2 separate regions of the Homo sapiens genome follow, and region 1 is reported to be linked to region 2. The links are microRNA targets in miRTarBase. Many come from high-throughput screens and were not tested one by one. Region 2 holds a microRNA gene; the other region holds the end of a gene's coding sequence.
The links. Region 2 holds the annotated microRNA hsa-miR-7156-5p (UUGUUCUCAAACUGGCUGUCAGA, at 3,091-3,113, shown strand). A microRNA usually pairs through its seed, bases 2 to 8, with sites in the 3' UTR of a target mRNA and lowers its output. Matches are read on the target gene's strand: a 7mer-m8 pairs with bases 2 to 8, a 7mer-A1 pairs with bases 2 to 7 and ends in A, and an 8mer does both.

Region 1 (10,245 bases), not on the chromosome of region 2:
ACCTAGGCAAGATGGCAAACCCGTCTTTTTTTTTTTTTTTTGAGACAAAGTTTCGCTCTTGTCACTCAGGCTGGAGTGCAACGGAGCGATCTTGGCTCACTGCAACCTCCGCCTCCTGGGTTCAAGTGATTCTCCTGCCTCAGCCTCCCGGGTAGCTGGGATTACAGGCACCCGCCACCACACCTGGCTAATTTTTGTATTTTAGTAAAGACGAGGTTTCAACATGTTGACCAGGCTGTTCTTGAACTCCTGACCTCAGGTAATCCACCTGCCTTGGCCTCCTGAAGAGCTGGGATTACAGGCGTGAGCCACCACGCCCGGCCCAAATCCCTGTCTTTACAAAAAAAAAAAAAAAAAAAAAAGCCAGATGTGGTGGTACATGCCAGTAGCTCTAGCTGCTTGGGAGGCTGAGGCAGGAGGACTACTTGAGCCCAGGAGGTCAAGGTTGCAGTGAGCCATGATTGAGCCTGGGTGACAGAGCAAGACACTGTCTTTAAAATTTTTTAAACCTTCAAAAATGAAGGCAAAATACTCTTCCAGATAATCAAAAGCCGAGAAAACTCATAACTAGCAGATATATGCTAAAGAGATATTAAAGAAAGCTCTTTAAAAGAAAGAAAATGACACCATATGGAAATCTGAAACTGCACAAAGGAAAGAACATTGCCAGAAATAGTGAATACGTGGATAAACTTAAAAGACAATTTTCTCTCATGTTTAAATCTTTTAAAAAGTTAATTAACAGTTTAAAACAAAAATAATGACAATGAATTTTGGGAATAACATATGTAGAAGTAAAATGTATGACAATGATAGCACAGCGAACAGAAGGTGGAGGTAAGCTGCTAAGTTTGTGTGCAACTCATGAAGGGATACAGTATTTTTTGAAGGTAGATATGTTAGTTAATAGATGTGGGCCAGGCGCGGTGGATCATGCTGGTAACCCCAGCACCTTGGGAGGCCGAGGCAGGCAGATCATGAGGTCAGGAGTTCGAGACCAGCCTGGCCAAAATAGTGAAACCCCATCTCTACTAAAAATACAAAAAAATTAGCCAGGCATGGTGGCAGGCAGCTGTAATCCCAGCTACTCGAGAGGTTGAGGCAAGAGAATCGCTTGAACCCAGAAGGCGGAGGTTGCAGTGAGCCAAGATCACCCACTGCAATCCAGCCCAGACGACAGTGTGAGACTCCATCTCAAAAAAAAAAAAAAATGCATAAAAAGGATTTGACAAAATTTTAACACCTACTCACGGAAAAAAATTCTCAGAAAACTAGGAATAGAAAGGCACTTCCTCATCCTGATAAAATGCATCTATAAACAACCTACAGTTTATTGAGCTGTGGAAGACTGAATGCTGTGCTGTGGAGACCAGAACAAGGCGAGAGTGCCTGCTCACACCACTTCCAGGCTACATTTTACTGGAGGTTCTCACCGGCACAAAAAGGAAAAGCAATAAAAGCATCCAGACTGGAAAGGAAGATGTAAATGGCATTTATTTTTAGATAACCTGATCGTCTGAGTAGAAAATATGACAGAGCCTATAAATAAACTACCACAAGTCATCAATGAGCTTAGAAAAGTAGAATACAAAGTCAACATACAAAAAGAAACTGCCTTCCTCTATTCCAGTATAAACAATTAGAAGTTGAAAATTTAAAAATACTACCATTTACAACAGCTCTATAAAACACAAAATACGTAGGGATAAATTTAATAAAACATATGGAAGACCTATATCATGAAAATGACAAAATATTGGGAGAAATTAAATGTCTGAAAAACTAGACAATGGTCATGGATCAGACGACTCAACACTGTTGAGTGTCAATTCTCCCTCTGCCCGAAGAGCTTAGCAGCCTAGCAGCCTAGCCTCAAACTGTGTTTCAAACTGTTTTTTCTTTTCCTTTTCCTCTTCCCCTTCCCAGTCTCAAGATAAAACTTTGAGACAAACTGCATATGTGTTACCTTTCATCTCGAAATACAGCCTTGGAATGTGCTGCGAACCTCCACTCCCTTTCATTTTTATTTTTGGAAACAGTCTCGCTCTGTCGCCCAGGCTGGAGTACAGTGGTGCAATCTCCGCTCACTGCAACCACCACCCCCTGGGTTCCAGTGATTCTCCTGCCTCAGACTCCCAAGTAGCTGGGATTACAGGCGTGTGCCACCACGCCTGGCTAATTTTTTGTATTTTTAGTAGAGATGGGGTTTCACCATGTTGGCCAGGCTGGTCTGGAACTCCTGACCTCAGGCAATCCACCCACCTCAGCCTCCCGAAGTGCTGGGATTACAGTCGTGAGCCACCGAACCCGGGCCCTCCACTCTTCTTTCTTTTCCCACTGTATGCTCCCATGCTTTATGCACATGTATTTACCCAGATACTAGTTAAGCACACACCATGCTCTCTTATCTGGCCATTTATTTGCTTAGAAGCTTCAGGGGTCGGGTCCTAAAAGGGACTAGGCAACTCCGGAATTCTCTTTCCAACAAAAGATTATTTCAAGGCCAGAACCCTCTCCTGGCTGAAGAGTGACTACAAGATTGACTGTGATTAATTTATAACCTGGTAGGATGCACAATGGTGCCGGCCCCTTCACCAAATGGGACAATAATTCAAGAAGGGCCACTGAAGCAAGTCACGCCACCTGGCACCTCTTAGTCCCCCTTGCCTCTTCCGCATTCCAAACCCTTTCTGTAAAACCCTGCGTTCCCTCCACAAACTGAAGAGTGGAACTGCTCTTCCCCTTGCCTGCACAAATAATAAAGGAATATCACTCTTTCTCATCATAACTTATTATTTTGCCTTCTTTCCATAAGTGGCCGGACTCTTTTTGCGAGTTAATCCCCAGCTTGATCTGTAAATTTAGTGTAATCACAATCAGAATTGTACTGCATGTTTTCGTCTGTAGAAATTGACAAATTGATTCTACAATGTATATGAAAAGGCAAAGGAGCTAGAAAAGCCAAAACCACATCAAAAAACAGAAAGCCAATTGGGGACTTGCAATTCACAATTTTAAGACACAGGTACGGCTCAAATAAAAAGGACCCTGGGAATTGGCGTAAGGATGGCCATAGCTCAGTGCACAGAAAAGACTCCAGAAAGAGCCCACACAGGTATAGCCAACTGCATCTTGACGAAGATGCAAGGTGATTTCATGGAGGAGGAAAGGGTGCAGGAACAACGGGATAATCATATGGGGAAAAACCAAAAACAACAAACTGAACTTGGACTCCACATCCAAGATTAACTTAAAATGGATTACACACCTAATCATAACAGCTCAAACATACACTTACACAGCAGAGCTTCTCAACATCACACCATTGACCACTGGGCTGGAATGACTCTTTGTTGCAAGGGCTGTCCCGTGCCTCCTACCTGAGGCATTTTGTGGCAACCCAGCCCACCAAGACACCTGTGCCACTGACGGAAAGAGGGGCAAACTCATGCCCAGCTGAGCCCTGCTGGTCTAGATGAAGGGCAGGTCCAGAGATGTGTCATGGAGTTCCTTGATAAAAATATTACCTTCTAATGGTGCAGGGACTACTAGATATCCATATGGCATAAAGAAATAAATAAATCCTTACCTCATACCATACATAAACATTAATTCAAAATGGATCACAGACCTAAACACAAGAGCAGAGCTTTTAGGTTTCGATAAGGAGATAATAAAAGCAGCCACAGACACCAATGTAGAAATAACAGCAAGATTCTCGGCCGGGCGCAGTGGCTCACGCCTGTAATCCCAGCACTTTGGGAGGCCGAGACGGGCGGATCACGAGGTCAGGAGATCGAGACCATCCTGGCTAACACGGTGAAACCCCGTCTCTACTAAAAATACAAAAATTAGCCAGGCATGGTGGCGCGCGCCTGTAGTCCCAGCTACACGGGAGGCTGAGGCAGGAGAATGGCGTGAACCCGGGAGGCGGAGCTTGCAGTGAGTCGAGATTGCGCCACTGCACTCCAGCCTGGGTGACAGAGCGAAACTCTGTCTCAAAAAAAAAAAAAAAAAAGATTCTCATCAGTTAACTATGCAAGCCAAAATAAAACATGTTATTTCATACAGGACAACAAATAAACATGGTTTTTTACATGTCTTTTTATATAGAACACAAAAAGCACAAACTACAAGAGTATAATTGATAAACAGGACTTCTTCAAAATTAAAATTTCCTATTTGAAAGACACCATTTTAAAAAATTAAAATAGGGCCAGGTGCGATGGCTCACACCTGTAATCCCAGCACAGAGGTCAGGAGTTTGAGACTAGCCTGGCCAACATGGTGAAACCCCATCTCTACTAAAAATACACACACACACAAAATTAGCCAGGCATGGTGACATGCACCTGTAATCCCAGCTATTCGGGAGGCTGAGACAGGAGGACTGCATGAACCCAGGAGGCAGAGGTTGCAGTGAGCCAAGATCGCACCATTGCACTCCAGCCTGGGTGACAGAGCGAGACTCGGTCTCAAAAATAAAATATAAAATAAAATAAAATAAAAATAGGAGCCACATACTGTAATACCCAACCCTAATAAAAGACTTGTATCCAGAACATCTAAAGAAGGCTTAAAACGCAACAAGACAAACAATGCAATAATACAACAAAAACAGATGAGAGACTTGAGCTGGTATTTCACCAACACAGATACATAAGTGAAGTGTGCAGCATCAGTCCTCGGGCAACACAAATTAAAGACACCATGAGTTACCACTACACAACCAACAGAATGAAGATAAAAACACTGAAAATAACCATTGTAAGGGAGGATGATAGGAATATAAAATGTTACAACAACTATGGAAAACAGTTTGTGAGATTTGTTTAAAAGTTAAATGTAGACTTAACATATTAACCAGAACTTCCACTCCAAGAAACTGACCCAGTGAAACAAGCCCACACAGACTTGTATACATGAAGGTTCCTAGCAACTTTATCTGCAATAGCCAAAGGACCATCAATAAACAGCCAAAGGGGAATCAATAGGTGAGTGGGTAAATAGCCAAACAACCATCAACAGGTGAATGGATAAACAGCCAAATGACCCTCAATAGGTGAATGGCTAAGCCACCACAGTGTGGATGAACCTCAAGACTGTGGCAGTGTGGGGCCAGGTCCCAGCAGCCGTTGTAACAAACGACGCTCAATAGGTGAATGGCTAAGCCACCACAATGTGGATGAATCTCAAGACTGGACAGTGTGGGGCCAGGTCCCAGCAGCCGTTGTAACAAATAACCCTCAATAGGTGAATGGCTAAGCCACCACAGTGTGGATGAACCTCAAGACTGTGACAGTGTGGGGCCGGGTCCCAGCAGCCGTTGTAACAAACTTTAGATGTTTCTGATGCATATTAAAGCCTGAAAACCACTGATCTAGAAAATCAGAATAATTTAAATTACAATTATTACTGTCTTTGGCCACCCAACAGCTATTTATTTTTTTGTTCTGGGATCTCTCCCCTTGAGTCTTGGTGAGTGGTGAAGAATGTCTCCTGATGCAGGGAATATTTAAATGTTTAAAGTGGTGAGTACTTGCCTTCCCGGCCATGCGGCCAGGATTCTGCCAGTCTTTGGCTGAGGAGTGAGTGCCACAGCAGGGGTAGGGCAGCTCCCAACCTCTCCCTACCCCTCTAACTGGGTGCAGAAGTAACATTGGTGTTGGAACATTGCAGGTGAATTCTGGGAGCAGAAGTGCTAATTAAAATGTCAAGTGCCCGGTGGCAATCACAGGGATTCATCCTCAGACTAGCTTTGAGTTATGGCTTTCAACTGTCAAGACTGAGTTCTCCCAAAGACACTGGGGGCTTAAACAATGTCGGCTCAGGAATGTAGCTCAAAACTGTAGATCCTCACAGTCCAACATGGCAGTGAGAGCTCCATCCATCACAACCCCATTCCAGGCAGAATGTAAGAAAGGTAAAGATACACAGATAACTTGTAAGGTGCCCATGACAACTTCACTATTATCTTACTGGAAGCACCTGGACACATGCCCACATGTAGGTGCAAGCAATGTTGGTGAATGTGGTCTTTATTCAGGAGGGGCACGTACCCAGAGACAAAATCAGAGATAGTATTTCTGTGGAAAAAGAGGAGAATAAATAACAGGGGAGAGACCAGCAATCTCTCCCTCACATACTCAAGTCGCCAGTCTTAGATCTGCACTAACCCTTCCAAATAAACGACTCTATCTGATAGAACTATATTTCCGTTATCAATGTCACTCACTAATTCAGAATACGGTTTAGTCAGCCAGGATGTCTAGAAAGTCATATTTTCAAAATTATCTGAATTAAGCTGTAATATTATTCCACTCCCCACCTTCCATTTCTCAGATCCCTTGGCAAAACCTTACCCTGAATGCTCATAACTACAGTAAGTAGTCCACTTCTTGTACCGTCTCAGAGAAATACAGGCACAGAAACACTGGAATTTCTTTACTTTTTTGCTCAGGGGCTGAGGACAGAACAAGCACAAAATTTAAGCTGCACTAATTTCCAACCAACTATGAGGTGGTCCACAAGGGCCCACAGGATCAACCGTGACACAGAATCTTTGACTAAGAGGGCCAGGAGCATGGGGCCATGAAACAACTGGCATCCACCAGGTGGGCGAGAGGTCAGGGCAGCCTAGGAGGCTGTCAGCACCACTGCTACCAGAACAGCTCTCAGAAAGAAAAGACCAGAGTAACAGTGTTTGCCTTTAGGCTGAGCTACTTGGTGTCTGTGCTGCTCACGTTCACAGCCACAGGACCCATCCCAATACCCATAGAGGCAACATGAAGGTTGGACCCAGAGACTGCTGTGGGCCCTGCCCTGGGCTCTCCACTCAGGGAGTATCACAGCACCTCACTCCTGGCCATAAAGGTAATACTTTCTCTTTTTTTTTTTTGAGACAGAGTCTTGCTCTGTCGCCCAGGCTGGGGTGCAGTGACGCGACGTCAGCTCACTGCAACCTCTGCTTCCTGAGTAGCTGGGATTACAGGCATTCACCACCACACCCAGCTAATTTTGTATTTTTGGTAGAGACGGGGTTTCACCATGTTGTCTAGGCTGGTCTTGAACTCCTGACCTCAAGTGATCTATCTGCCTGCCTCAGCCTCCCAAAGTGCTGGGATTACAGGCGTGTGCCACTGCGCCGGGCCCCTAATACTTTCAAATAAACAAATGGATGTTGTCATTGCTTTATTACTCATAGTTTCCAAGCAATATTACATATATAAAAGTCATTTTAAAAACAACCAGGTTTGCTAGAAAAGTGTTTTTTCTTGGAATCATGGATTTCTACACCATTCATACCTGGAGTCCTTTATATTAAATATATTATTTACGCAGGCACTAGGCAAAATTGAAGAAGTTTTGAGTTATCTCCTCCATAACCCCCACCTTCCCACATTCCCACAAAAAAATCCCACCCTTTCCCTATTATATGGGTTATTAACATTAAAAACAATAGGAAAATACACAGGCATTTCAATTTGAATCACTTTTCCCTATTTTTACATGTCTGGAGATGTTGGCTTGGTTATGAATTCAAAAGTTCTCCCAGAGTTCTTGATGATGATTCATAGAGAAATCTGAAACACAAATAAAGAAATATTTAGCTACAGAAAAAAGTGACCAAATTATCCAAATGTACATTTTCAAAAATATAATCTAAAAATGGTTTGCAACCATGCATTTAAAAACAAAGTTGAAATAATCTATAGATGTTTCATTAATTGTTTCTTGTATGTAAAATGGAGTCAGAATCCCCACAGCAGTCAGGACACATGGCACTGGAGCACAGGCTTGGGTTGACCGTGGACACCAAGCACTGCCAGGCAATGAAACGTGCTCACTGGGCAGTGTGCTATGCTGGTGAGCAAACAGGACGTGTGCTCTTCCTTTCCAGCACCCACAGTTCTGAGCCTATTTCTCTATTACACAAGAAAACAAGATAAATAAAAACTATGTGACCTACCAAGATACTCTACTACCATGACATTTACCTACTACCTCTAATAACCTGAAGCCTTTAGAAAAACCTCACTTTCCCACTCCCCTGCCCTACATCCCTGTCCCTCAAGGCGAGACTCTTCCTCCTCACGTCCTCCCCAGCCCCACCTAGGCCGCGGCTTTGGCTGAGAGCACTGAGTACTTTTCCTTGCCAGACGTTGTCCTCACTTCCCTGGCAGTGTGCCTATTTTAAGAATCATTATTAGACAGGTAGCATATCACTGTTCCTTCAAATACACATATTTACAAAGTGCGTGGCTCACCATGGCTTCCCTTTTTACTGTCCCACAACTCCTGCATGGCTCCAATGCTTGTTCCATTACAGGGCACTCCAAAGCAGTCTCCTCAGAGAAGCAATAAAGAAAAGCTCATCTCTGAATTCCTCCTGGACACAAATATCTACCTTTCACTCCAAATGAATCTCAGCGAGATTTAAAACTCTTACAATCCTATTGTCTTCCTGTGTCCAGCACTGCAAGTGAGACTCATGTCTACCTGGTCTTCACCTTTGGAGACAGACTGCTGTCTACCACAGCCCCTGTAATGTCAATGCCAGTCACATGCGTCATTTTACATTTTCCAGTAATCACATTGAAACAGGTCAAAGGGTACAATGGATCAAGACCTTGCTTCTTTTTATTTTTTTAAGCAAAATTCATCTTAATATATTTTATTTAACCCAACATATCCAAAATGCTTCAACTTGTAATCAATATAAAATTATTTATGACATAGTTCACATTCTCTTTTCCATACTGTCTTCAAAACCTGCTTGCACTTTCTATGAGGGCCACACTCAGCTTAGACTCACCAGGTTTCATGTGTTCAGCAGCCACTGTATTGGCCTGCATGAATCTAGAAAAATTTTAAGATTTTCTCTTTATTCCTGGAATTTAGGAATCTTATCCATAATTATTTAGCTGTGATTTTTTTTTTCCATCAATCCAGAATGTAGTGAAAGAAAAAAGGGAATCTGCATATATTTCTTTAAGCTCTGGGGAATTTTTTCCTATCGTTGTTGAATCACTGCTTCTCCTTGCTGTTAGGTCTCTCGGGCCTTTTCCCCCAAGTCTATCCCCACCCTCGTGACCTCTCCTCGTGAGTATTTATGGTCTATGTTCTGAGACATCTCTCCAAATTGACCTTTCTGGAATTTGACTATCACAGGAACCATCTCTGTAGTGTGTCTGTGACACTTGAGCTCTAGACTGTCCTTTCGGGGTTACAGTTGACTCTTCTTCAAAGACTCTTATTACTCACCCACCACTATCACTCTGGAAGCGCCTGGGCCACCCTCTGTGTGGTTATTTCTGCCTGTGTTGAACCAGGGGTGAGGGCACAGCTATGTGGAGGCTGCCATGCAGCGACACAGGAGACTCTGGGTGCCCCACAGCCCCTTCACTCTCCCAGCCTCGCTGGGCCTCTACTGGACCTGCTGCCTCAGGGTCTCCTGCCCATTCCCTGAGTCCCCCAAGGAGAAGAGAGTGCTCTCTGTCCACAGACCAGGTTCCGCCCACCTGTCAGCCCAGCAACTGCCTGGCTCAGCAGCAGTGCAGCCAGAGGCAAGACAGAGGAGAACAGGCCCAGGAAGTCATGAACCCTCCAAAATCTAAAATTAATTTTTTTTTTTGAGACAGGGTCACGCTCTGTCACCCAGGCTGAAGTGCAGCAGTGAGGTCACAGCTCACTGCAGCCTTGACCTCTCGGGCTCAAGCAATCCTCCCAGCTCACCCTCCCAAGTAGCTGGGACTATGGTGCACACCACCACACCCAGCAGATTTTTTTGTATTTTTTGTAGAGATGGGGTTTCACCATGTTACCCAGTCTAGTAGTGAACTCAGCTTAAGCAATCTGCCCGCCTCAGCCTCCCAAAGTGATGGAATTACAGACACCATACCTGGCCTAAAATTAATTTTTAATTACTCAAAAATAATATTGTCTCCTTAAGTGAACATGAATTTAAAAATACTTTAGAGAAAAATGTTACGTTAAAAGTACAGTTAACCCTCACTATCTGTGGGAGATGTGTTCCAGGACCCCCCAGATACTAAAATCCACAGATGTTCAAGTCCCTGGTATAGTGTTTGCATATAGTCTACCCACATCCTCCTGTATGCTTTAAATCATCTCTAGACTACTTATAATACCTAATACAAGGTAAATGCTATGGTAATAATTGTTATACTATATTGTCTATATACTATATCGTCTATATTGTTATACTATACTAATAGTTGTTAT
Region 2 (9,785 bases):
TAGCAGCTTCACAGCTATTAATTCAACTCTATTCTCTCTATTCTTCAAACATTTCCTGAGTACCTACTATATGCCAGGTACTGCACCAAGAATAGAAATGTGTTTAAAGAGAGTGTCTAAGAGTTCTAGAGAGAGGCAAAGACACCATTCTTTCCTCAGGATATTTGCAGCCTTCTGCATAGTCCAGCCCCAAACCCAGTGGGCAGGGTTAACCTAGATCACACTATAGGAGAGAAAAAGTAATTTCTTTTCCTCATCCATCATAGGTTCTTTGCTGAGACTCCTAGGAAAAAAAGACAGATTAACAAGAGAAAAGCATACACATTTATTTAATATAAATTTTACGTGACACCAGAGCCTTCAGAAATGAAGAGCCAAAGAAACAGGGAGACCTCCTTATTTTTATGCTAAGCTTGATGAGGAAGTGGATAGCTGTGAAGAAGTAGGATTGGACAAAGCAGGTGTGATCTGATGGTAATAAACCAGGGTGGGTGGGAGGAGGTAGCAAGGTATGTTTGTTCAGATTCTTTTGACATTTCCTTGTCTTTGAAGATAAGGATGTTCATTTCCTCCGGATATATGGAGGGTACCTCTGGAATGAAAGTTTATGACCTGCTTTAGACGAGGGCAAAGAAATCTTTTATGAACTGCATCAGAGGAGAACAGTGAAGGGAGGTGAAAGTGATCTCCCTGCTTCTGTTGTTTCCTCAAATGCCAAGGTACCATATTTTGGAGCAACATGTCCTAAACCTCGTCAGTACCCAGAAATGGAAGTGTCTTCCCTTGCTTGTTAGGGTTATGAGGTTTTTTTCAGTTGTAAAACTTAGCTTTAGAAGAGTCAAAAAGTGGAACATTACAAACCCCTGTTGCCATTAGCACCGATGGGCAGAATTGCACATGAGCACAAAGCCTCTGTTTAACACCCTGAGCAGCTCGCAAGCACCACACATGGGGCTCCTCTGTAGCAAGAGCTCGGAGGAAAGCGGCAAGGACAAGCTGCTTTCAACCACACACTGTTGATCCCAGGGAAACCTGGGTGCCATTAGTACAGAAACCCCACCTGGGGGAAAGGAGTTTTTCCAAGACACAGAACCTCACTCTTAAGAGTACAGAGTCAACTGGAGTCAACTGGCTTTGGTCCAAACCTTGGCTGCGAAACTTCAGTTTTTCTGTGCATGAGTTTCCTCGTCTGCAGAGTAGGGGTGCTAATAGTAGCTCTCTGCTATAGTTTGGATATGTTTTGTTTGTTCCCACCAAATCTCATGTTGAAATTTGATCCTCAGTGTTGGACGTGGGGCCTAGTGGCAGGTGTTTGGGTCATGGGGGCAGATCCCTCATGAATAGATTAGTGCCCTCCCTGGGGCGGGGCATGAGTGAGTTCTCACTCTATTTGCCCCCAACAGAGCTAGTTGTTAAAAAGAGCCTGGCACCTCCCCCTTTCTCTTCTTCCTCTCTCGCCTTGTGATTTATGCACATGCCAGCTCCCCTTCACTTTCTGCTAGGAGTGGAAGCAGCCTGGGGCTCTCCCCAGATGCCCAACCTTGAATTTTTTGAGACATCAGAATCATGGGCCAAATAAGGCTTTTTTCTTTATAAATTACCCAGACTTGGGTATTCTTTTCTAGCAACACAAAATGGACTGACACTGTCTTATAGGGGTGTTGTGAGGACTAAATAAGTGAGTGTATGTGGAGTGCTGAGCACTGTGTTCTGAGCTGAAATAGTCAAGTCCAGCAGCTTGGATGGACAATAAGTCAGGTTGTGTGCTGAAAGCCAGGCAGTGGACTGTCTCCCTGGGTATCAGATGCTCCCTATCAAATGGGAGCTGCAATACTTGCCTCAGAGGGCTGATGAGGATGTAAAGGAGATCACATCAGTTAAGCGCAGAAGCTGAGCAGGTACTTACAAAATCAGTTGTCTCAAACTTAGCTGCATATTAGAATCTCAAGGAGCTTTCCACCATTTGAATCTTCTAAAAAGCTTTGTTGTTATGATATGTATTATTTAAAAATATGTTTATTTTTGTTTCAAATAATTTTAGAGTTACAGAAAGGTTGCAAAAATAATACTGAGAGTTCATATAACTTTTATCCAGCTTCCCCTAATGCGGATTTGCATTCCTATGGTCCAATTATCAAAAGTAAGAAATTAACATGAGTATAATGCTCAGCTAAACTACAGGCATTATTGAGATTTTACCAGTTTCTCTACTAATGTCCTTTATGTCCTCCAAGAACGAATCCAGGTTCCCTTTGCATTTATTTATCAGGTGTCCTCAGTCTCTAAATCCATGGCCGTTCCTCAGGCTTTCCCTGCATTTCATGACACTTTTGATGAGGACTAGTCACGTATTTCATAGAATGTCCTTCACTTGGGGTTTATCTAATGTTTTCCTGTGCTTAGATTGAGGTTATGCATTACTGAGAAGGATACCACAGAAGCCATAGGCCCTTCCCAGAATCTCATAACAGGAAGTATGTGATGTCCATACGTCTTATTACTGGCAATGTTAACCTTCATCACTTGGTTAAGGTAATGTCTGCTGGGTTTACCTATTGTAAAGATAGTATTTTTCCCTTTGTCATTAATAAATAACTTGGGAGAGATACTTTCAGGTTATGCAGGTAGCCTATTTCTCCTCATCTTTTTCCCCATTAATGTTCTGTTCATTTGGTGCATCTTGCCTGCGACAATTACTGCAACGTTCTGAGGATGGTTTCCTAGTCCCTCATTTTTTCTACATTGTTTATTGGAATTTTTCTGTCTTGAAATGCTGTTTCTTCTCCTCCATTTATTTGTTTATTTATTCAGTTATTTATTGAAATTATCATGGACTCATGGATATTTATTTTATTTTATTGGTTTTATAATCCAATACTGACATTGTTTATTTTGGTTCAAACCTAAGACACTTTCTAAAATACCTGTGCCTGAGTTCCTCTCCAAGTCATCCGAAGCAGAGTCTATGGGGTTGGAGCATAGGTATTTCCTTAAAGCTCCCCAACCGCACTAAATGTTAGTTCCCTCACTCTCCCCACCTGCTTCCTCTAAAAAGAAAAAAAAATTCTTCCTCAAATCATTCTGCAGGGCTTGTTCTCAAACTGGCTGTCAGAGTGTGCATGGCAGGCTGCAGCCACTTGGGGAACTGGTTCTGTGGTTATCTCCATTCCTGCCTCCCCAGCCCGCATATCCTTTCCTTCAGCTCACGGGGCCCACAATGGGAACTTGAGTACCAGAATTCCTTTTACAACTGCTTCCTCATGTGGAAATTCCGCTGAGGTTTATTGTAGTTTTCACTGAGGTCAGGTGAAGGAAGAAAAAAACTAGGGCAGTCTTTAGAAAGTCAGGTTTGAGAAAAGACCCAAGGAAGTATGACCTTCAGCTAGGAGTGTCTTTCTAAATGGCATAGTGAATTTAGTGAATTCCAGCTGATGGCAGGCTCACAGCTGGGGTAGATGTTCCTGCAGTTTCCAGCGCTGCCTTCTGAGTCCCAGAAAGCACTTTTCTGCTGCTTGGACAGAGTTTTAACATGTGGAAACAACTCGCTTACATGAATAACTTATCTTGACACCTCTGAAATCACAGTAACCAAATATGTAAATTTAATTCTCTTTTTAGGGGATCAATATGGAGTCAGATAAGTTTTTTTTCCAAAGAGATGGTCTTCCTGAATAAGGAAATTGATCCTGTAGCATCTTTAGCTGGTTTCCAATTGCCCCCTACTCCTAGGTGCCGAATCAATCTTATGATATTTTTAGAAACCTAACTGTTTCTTTAGTCAGATTGATGCCAATAAAATGTCCAAAACTTAGATGAATCAAATTTAAAGTGATTTGTGATGGAATAAAAGCTTAACCCCAAGCATACCATGGCAACATGAAATTGGCATGGTTCCCCCAAATTATGCCATATGAATATGGGAAGATATGTCTCACAAATTCTTATTTTTTTCTTCATAGTGGTCAGCTTCAACCTGAATTTTTGTTAGAAGGCATTTTTTGTGTTAAAAACACCTTCTATTAAAATTTTAATGGGATTCCAATTTCTAGGGTAAGTAAATTAATAAAATCTGCAATAACTAGTCAGGAAAGGATCCAGTGTTTCACTACAGAACATAGAGATAATTCCAAGACGGGCATATTAGAGATGCAAAGTGTTAATTCAGCATAGCATCCAAACCAGGATAAGGAATGTTTAGATGCTGCATGACAAAAATAAATCTCTCTTCCTGGAAGAACTTTAACCTAAGAGGAGAAACAGCTCAAAGGTTTATTGTTGTCAGAGCCAAAAACATGACACCCCTCTTGATAAAAGACTTCGATCCCTGACCCCAGTAGAGTTGCTACTCTAAAAGCTATTTGTGTATTGATCTCCTCTGAAGAAAACGAATAGGTGTCTGGCAGGATGAGCATCTTTGGGAAACCAAGTTATTATACTTAGAGGAGAGCCCAGGTGACCAAAGTGGGAACCCTAGGGCATCAGGCTCTGAAAGATGATTTGCAAGATGCTGGGAAGCCTGGGCCTTTTCTCTTCTTAGTCTCTGCAACAAGGCCAGTTGCTGAGCATAGCTCAAATTAGGAAAGTTTGTCTGCCAAGAAACCTTGACTAATCTTACCATTCATTCTTCAAAAGACAGAAGAGGTGGGCTAGACTGGCCTGTTTTAGAAACCAGTCTGAGACCAAGACTCTTTAGTGCGTAAATATTTATTAACCCTCAAACAAGGGCACCTACCACCCCCACATGTTAATCCTATGCACACCATCTTGAAGAAATGAGCCAGTACTTCCTGTTTGAGGCTGAGACAGAGATATAGAGGCAGAAAAACACTCGGAGACTCTCAGGCCACCAAACAAGGACTGAGGATGTAGAGTTTCTGGACTAAAAGACTGTAGACTTTGAGTACATAGGCCCTCTGAAGCATCAAAAGAAAAATCGTGGCCTCTTGTTTGCTGTCTTCCTTTTTCTCCCATAGGATCAAACTAAGATCATCAACTTTCCAAACTCAGAGAAGAAATTTGCGTTTAGCTGCTAATTCCATATAAATTTAGAAGTTTGCTATTTAGCTGCTAATTCCATATAAATTTCTTTCAACAACATAATTTTTAAAATTATTTATTAAGCACCTACCAGGGACTGTTCCAGGAATAAGACAAAACACTGCCCTCATGAACACCCAATAAACAAGTAAACAGCAACAACAATTCCAGACAGCAATTGATGCTATAAAGAAAATGAATTCAAGTGAGATGAAGTGAGGGGAGCAAGTGTCAGGTAAGGCCTCTCAGAGAAGGATATTACTTGAGCTGACACCCAAAGGTGAGGAGTGAACTCAGAGAGGGTATTCCAGGCAAGTGACCACCATCAAGTGCAAAGGCCCTGAAGTAGGGATGAGCTTTGTAGAGTTGACCAGAAAGGCCAGTATGGTGGGAACATACTGGGAATCCACAAGGCTGGGTGGATTAGGAGAAGACTTAGAAGGGGAGCCACATCATAATGCATCCCAGCAGCCATGCTCTCTGTATAACTGGAAGCCTCTGGAAGCTTAGTGGAGTGGGGAATGGGAATGACATATTTTGTTTTGGTAATATCTCTGCAGCTGCTTATGGTAAATAGACTGTAAGAAGAGTGAAAACAATACTATTGTTGTGACTTATTAATATGTAGGGTCTAAATCTGAGGAGACTGAATGTTCTGCAGCTCATTTTCAATCTCTTTGATGAAAATGATGGGCACTGATTTTATTTCACAACCTCAAAACCTCTCCACTTCCTTATTGTGTAATCAGAAAAACCATTTGTTCAAACTCATTTAACTAGAAAATACAATTTTTATCAGCTTATTAAAGATAACATCTTACCTCAATCAGTCAAAGGAAAAAAAATTTTTTTGCTTTAATCAGTTATCTCAATTTCCTCCTACAGGGATCCCAATCACCCTTCAGTACCTTATCATTATTATGAACCTTTTGGACCTGATGAATGTACAATGTACCTCTCCCATGAGCGAGGACGCAAGGGCAGTCATCACCGCTTTATCACAGAGAAACGAGTCTTTAAGAACTGGGCACGGACATTCAATATTCACTTTTTTCAACCAGACTGGAAACCAGAATCACTTGCTATAAATCATCCTGAGAATAAACCTGTGTTCTAAGGAATGAGCATGCCAGACTGTAATCCCAGGTATTCACTGCATCAGACACCGAGACACTGAACTTCCTGAGCCACCAGACAGGAAAGGGTAGCAGAAAACAGCTTCACTCCTCAGGAAGTACCATGGACAGACGCCTACCAGGGGTGACAAAGCAGTGCAGTTGGATTGTAAGGAAAAATTCCGGAATTAATGCATCCTAATGAATGTTGTCCCCTTCAATGGTGTTACCTTAGGAGCTGAACATTCAATTCAGTTACACCACTATGACTAAAAACAGTTTGGATCTCTTAGTATTGCCTTTGAAACTGCAACATAAGCAACTCAACAATATTAGTTGCATTCCTTTATAGACATACCATGTCAAAGACGTTTTTCTATCAAGTTGTATTCTTTCCTGTTCTATAACCTTTGTCATCTGTTAGACTCTGTATGTGTGATTTGTAAAAAGCAGGCTGAAACTATGGACATGATTTCTGAAGAGCACATCTCCACTGACTTTCATAAAGCAAATGTCCAATATTTATTTATTGAGAGTTTTTTAGTGCAATCTGGGCCAGTATTTTTATAGATTATGATTATGTGGTAATTTATCCTTCCTAACTCTTTAATCCTGAATGATGGTTGGAAATGGCCTAGAATTAGGTTACTCTGTTCACAATGCTCATTGTTAGCATGCAATTGGTATTTGACTTGGAAGTGTTGTGTTGTATTTTTTGAACCCCTAGGCTTCAGGAAAACTGCTCTTTTGTAAAAAGAATAGCGATGACATTTTCTAATGTGCAGAAATGTTCCAAAAGGACAAAATTGAAAACCAAAAACTATGTTATTAAAACAAAAAAATGCTAACAAGAGAAATTTAAAGGTAGTTTTCTTTAGTAATAATTTATGTAAGTGTCCTCTCTTGAGCCCTAGTTTCCTTTTTGGCAGAATGATGTCACTGTACCAGACAACCTCTTAGGTTTCATCCCAAATCTAAACTTGTGGCCTCTTCTTGACCCATTTGAAGACTCTGCACTTGGAGTGATGGGGCCCCAACAGTAGCAGGAACTTTATTTTGGGGAGCCTTATCTACATTCATATTACTTATATCACTCTTGTGGTTAAAACTACACTTCTTCCTGTGTCCACATGGGCTAAAATCTACCCCCTGCTTCTCTCGAAGCATCACCATCCGCCTCTTCCCCAGCCTCTCAACACAAAAACACAGGATACACACACACACACACACACAAAAGACATAGCTCCAAGGGGTTCCCTGGCTACAATAGCAAACAGCTGCCCTTCTGTGAGGAAAAGAGACTACAAGGACATGCCCTATCATTCAACTCATTTATGCTATGAACTGTTTAGACTCACTACAAATCTTCTTAGATTATATTCATTACCATTCCCTGGTCTGAAGGAGTATAAAGGACTTATTTTATTCAGAGCCAAGATAAATTCATATTATAGATTTTTATTTAAACAAGTAATATTGTTCAAAAATAGTCTCTTATAAATATACTAGTGTTTTCTTTACACATGACTTAGAAGGCATTAGTTTCTCTAATGCCAAATTTGAAGGCACCAGCAAATATTATGTATGAAGACTGACATTGTTTTACAGACATGACCTGGCTTATGATAAAAGAAGTTTTATCGCATTACCACTTCTTTTCCCTTTTCTTAATTAGTACACTAACTAGTACTATTAATTACACGGAGTATTGTTGTTAAAATGCAAACACAATCAGGGTACTCACATAACATAAACAAAGTTGATATTGATGTGTATGGCTTGGGCTGTTCAAAGCCAGTAAGATTGAAATGGCCGTCCAAAACATACTGGAATATGTTCTTTAAGTTTTCTCATAGTTTTTAAAGGGACTATGAATTTTATTCCAACACATTGTCTTCCACAGCATGGACTCTGAACACATCATACTTTATCAACATATGAAAAAGTGTATTAATTTTATACAATTTACTTATAGGCCACCTTTATAATCACTTGAAGACGTTATGTTGCTCAAACATAAGTGGCTCCTTTGGCAATTTCTATATTTGTGGAAATTTGGAAAGGCATAGTTTCAACATGCAAGAATGTAATTATATTGCTTCATCTAATAATATCTCACATATCTGTCTATCTTCAGATTTTAGATTTTCTTTATTAAAAAAACCATCATGGTAGCTCCATCTCGTTTGTAACTTCTCCCTCTCAAATACTCAGAAGAATGAAGAGGCCAAATTCAGAAAATCATGGCTTCACTGGGAAATGTTTTAAATCTACATGTAGCTAGGATATGTGATTTCATATTTTTTAAAAATGTGGTGTAAATAAGTGTAAAAAATTACCACTTGCAAAGTGGTTTTATTACAGCGTTAAAGAAAATGACTAGAATTCTGATAGATTGTGCTGATGAACCTGGTTGTGGGCAATTGAATTCTTGTCTTCCCACTACCATTTCATGACTGTCGTCTGAACACTATTCAACACCATTAAATATAAACTCTGATATAAAAGATGACTACAGAACCATGTTTATAGACCTCGGTGATTTCAGTATCTGATTGTGTTTGATGCCTAAGTCATACTCGTTATGTTACATGCCTTTTTCCTCTCTCCCAGCTGTGTCATCAGCTCCCTCCTAGCTTTTAAGACCACAGTAATACAATGCCACAGCTGGTCGATCCATGGCTTCTGTTATTTCAACACAAGAACATTTGGCAGAGGCCATTACAATAGATAGCCATTATGGGCAAAGATACGGGAATTTGCAAACAAAATCAATCACTTCAAATGGCCCATAAAAGGAGGAATCTCAGATTTAATATTCTACGGTAAATATTCACCCAAGAAAGCATACATTAAAAGAACATTAGGAGGTAAATATTCAGCATGCTGCATGGAGACTTAGCTGTGTGATTTCCATTACCGTTAATGGGCATTTGGCAACTAAGTCCCTGTGCTTTGCTAACCCTGGTGTGTACTCCTAAGGGCTACACATAAAACCTGAGCAATTCAGAGACTTCTGAGGTCATCAGATTTCAGAGTAAGATCTTTTCTTTAAAAAAAAAAATAGATGAAAGCAAAACACAACGTATTGTACCTAAAAGAGAAATTTGTGTGGTCTCTCACAATCCTTAGGTTACTACCAGATTTGTGTATCCTTTGTTTTCTGAAGTTCTCTCCATTACTGATCTATTTGAATGACATGAGAATGGAGGGAAATAATCTCATTTTGAAATAAAAACTCCCCTCAAAAATTAAAATTACCGACTTAGAAGATGATAAATGCTAAGTAAAAGTAGAAGGAGAAAGTTGAAATTCTATTAGGATTAAGACAGTGTTATTTAAAGGCACATGCACCCATTTAGTACCTGCCTAAATATTTGCCCTTGTGTAAGAGCAAACTCATTTCAGAAATATATCCTGAATTCCACCAGGGTGATGGTTCAAATTGTTAAATAAACCTACTCTGAAAGAAGGGTCCATGTTCCTATTCTCTCTCTGCAGTGTTGGGAGGTGATGTTAACACTCTACATGTTTTGTATCTGACCCAATCATTTCTTCCATTCTCATTGCTTCTCTCTTAAACCTCATTGTATCTCTTTACTGTCATTTTCTCCCAATTGTCTTCTTTTGTCT

Region 1: miRTarBase lists NCAPG2 as a target of hsa-miR-7156-5p. The part of its 3' UTR that is shown has no 7-base or 8-base seed match.

Annotation. Positions count from the first base shown.
Region 1 is chr7:158,624,135-158,634,379 of GRCh38, forward strand. NCAPG2 (non-SMC condensin II complex subunit G2) reads right to left here. Exons shown (of 28, transcript NM_017760.7): 28 at 7,035-7,583. The coding sequence ends at 7,532. Among named protein-coding and RNA genes, the nearest start is that of MIR5707, 38 kb to the left of the region's middle.
Region 2 is chr1:77,057,053-77,066,837 of GRCh38, forward strand. It overlaps MIR7156 (microRNA 7156), which reads left to right and starts at 3,091; the gene lies at 3,091-3,150. ST6GALNAC5 (ST6 N-acetylgalactosaminide alpha-2,6-sialyltransferase 5) reads left to right here. Exons shown (of 5, transcript NM_030965.3): 5 at 5,923-9,785. The coding sequence ends at 6,154.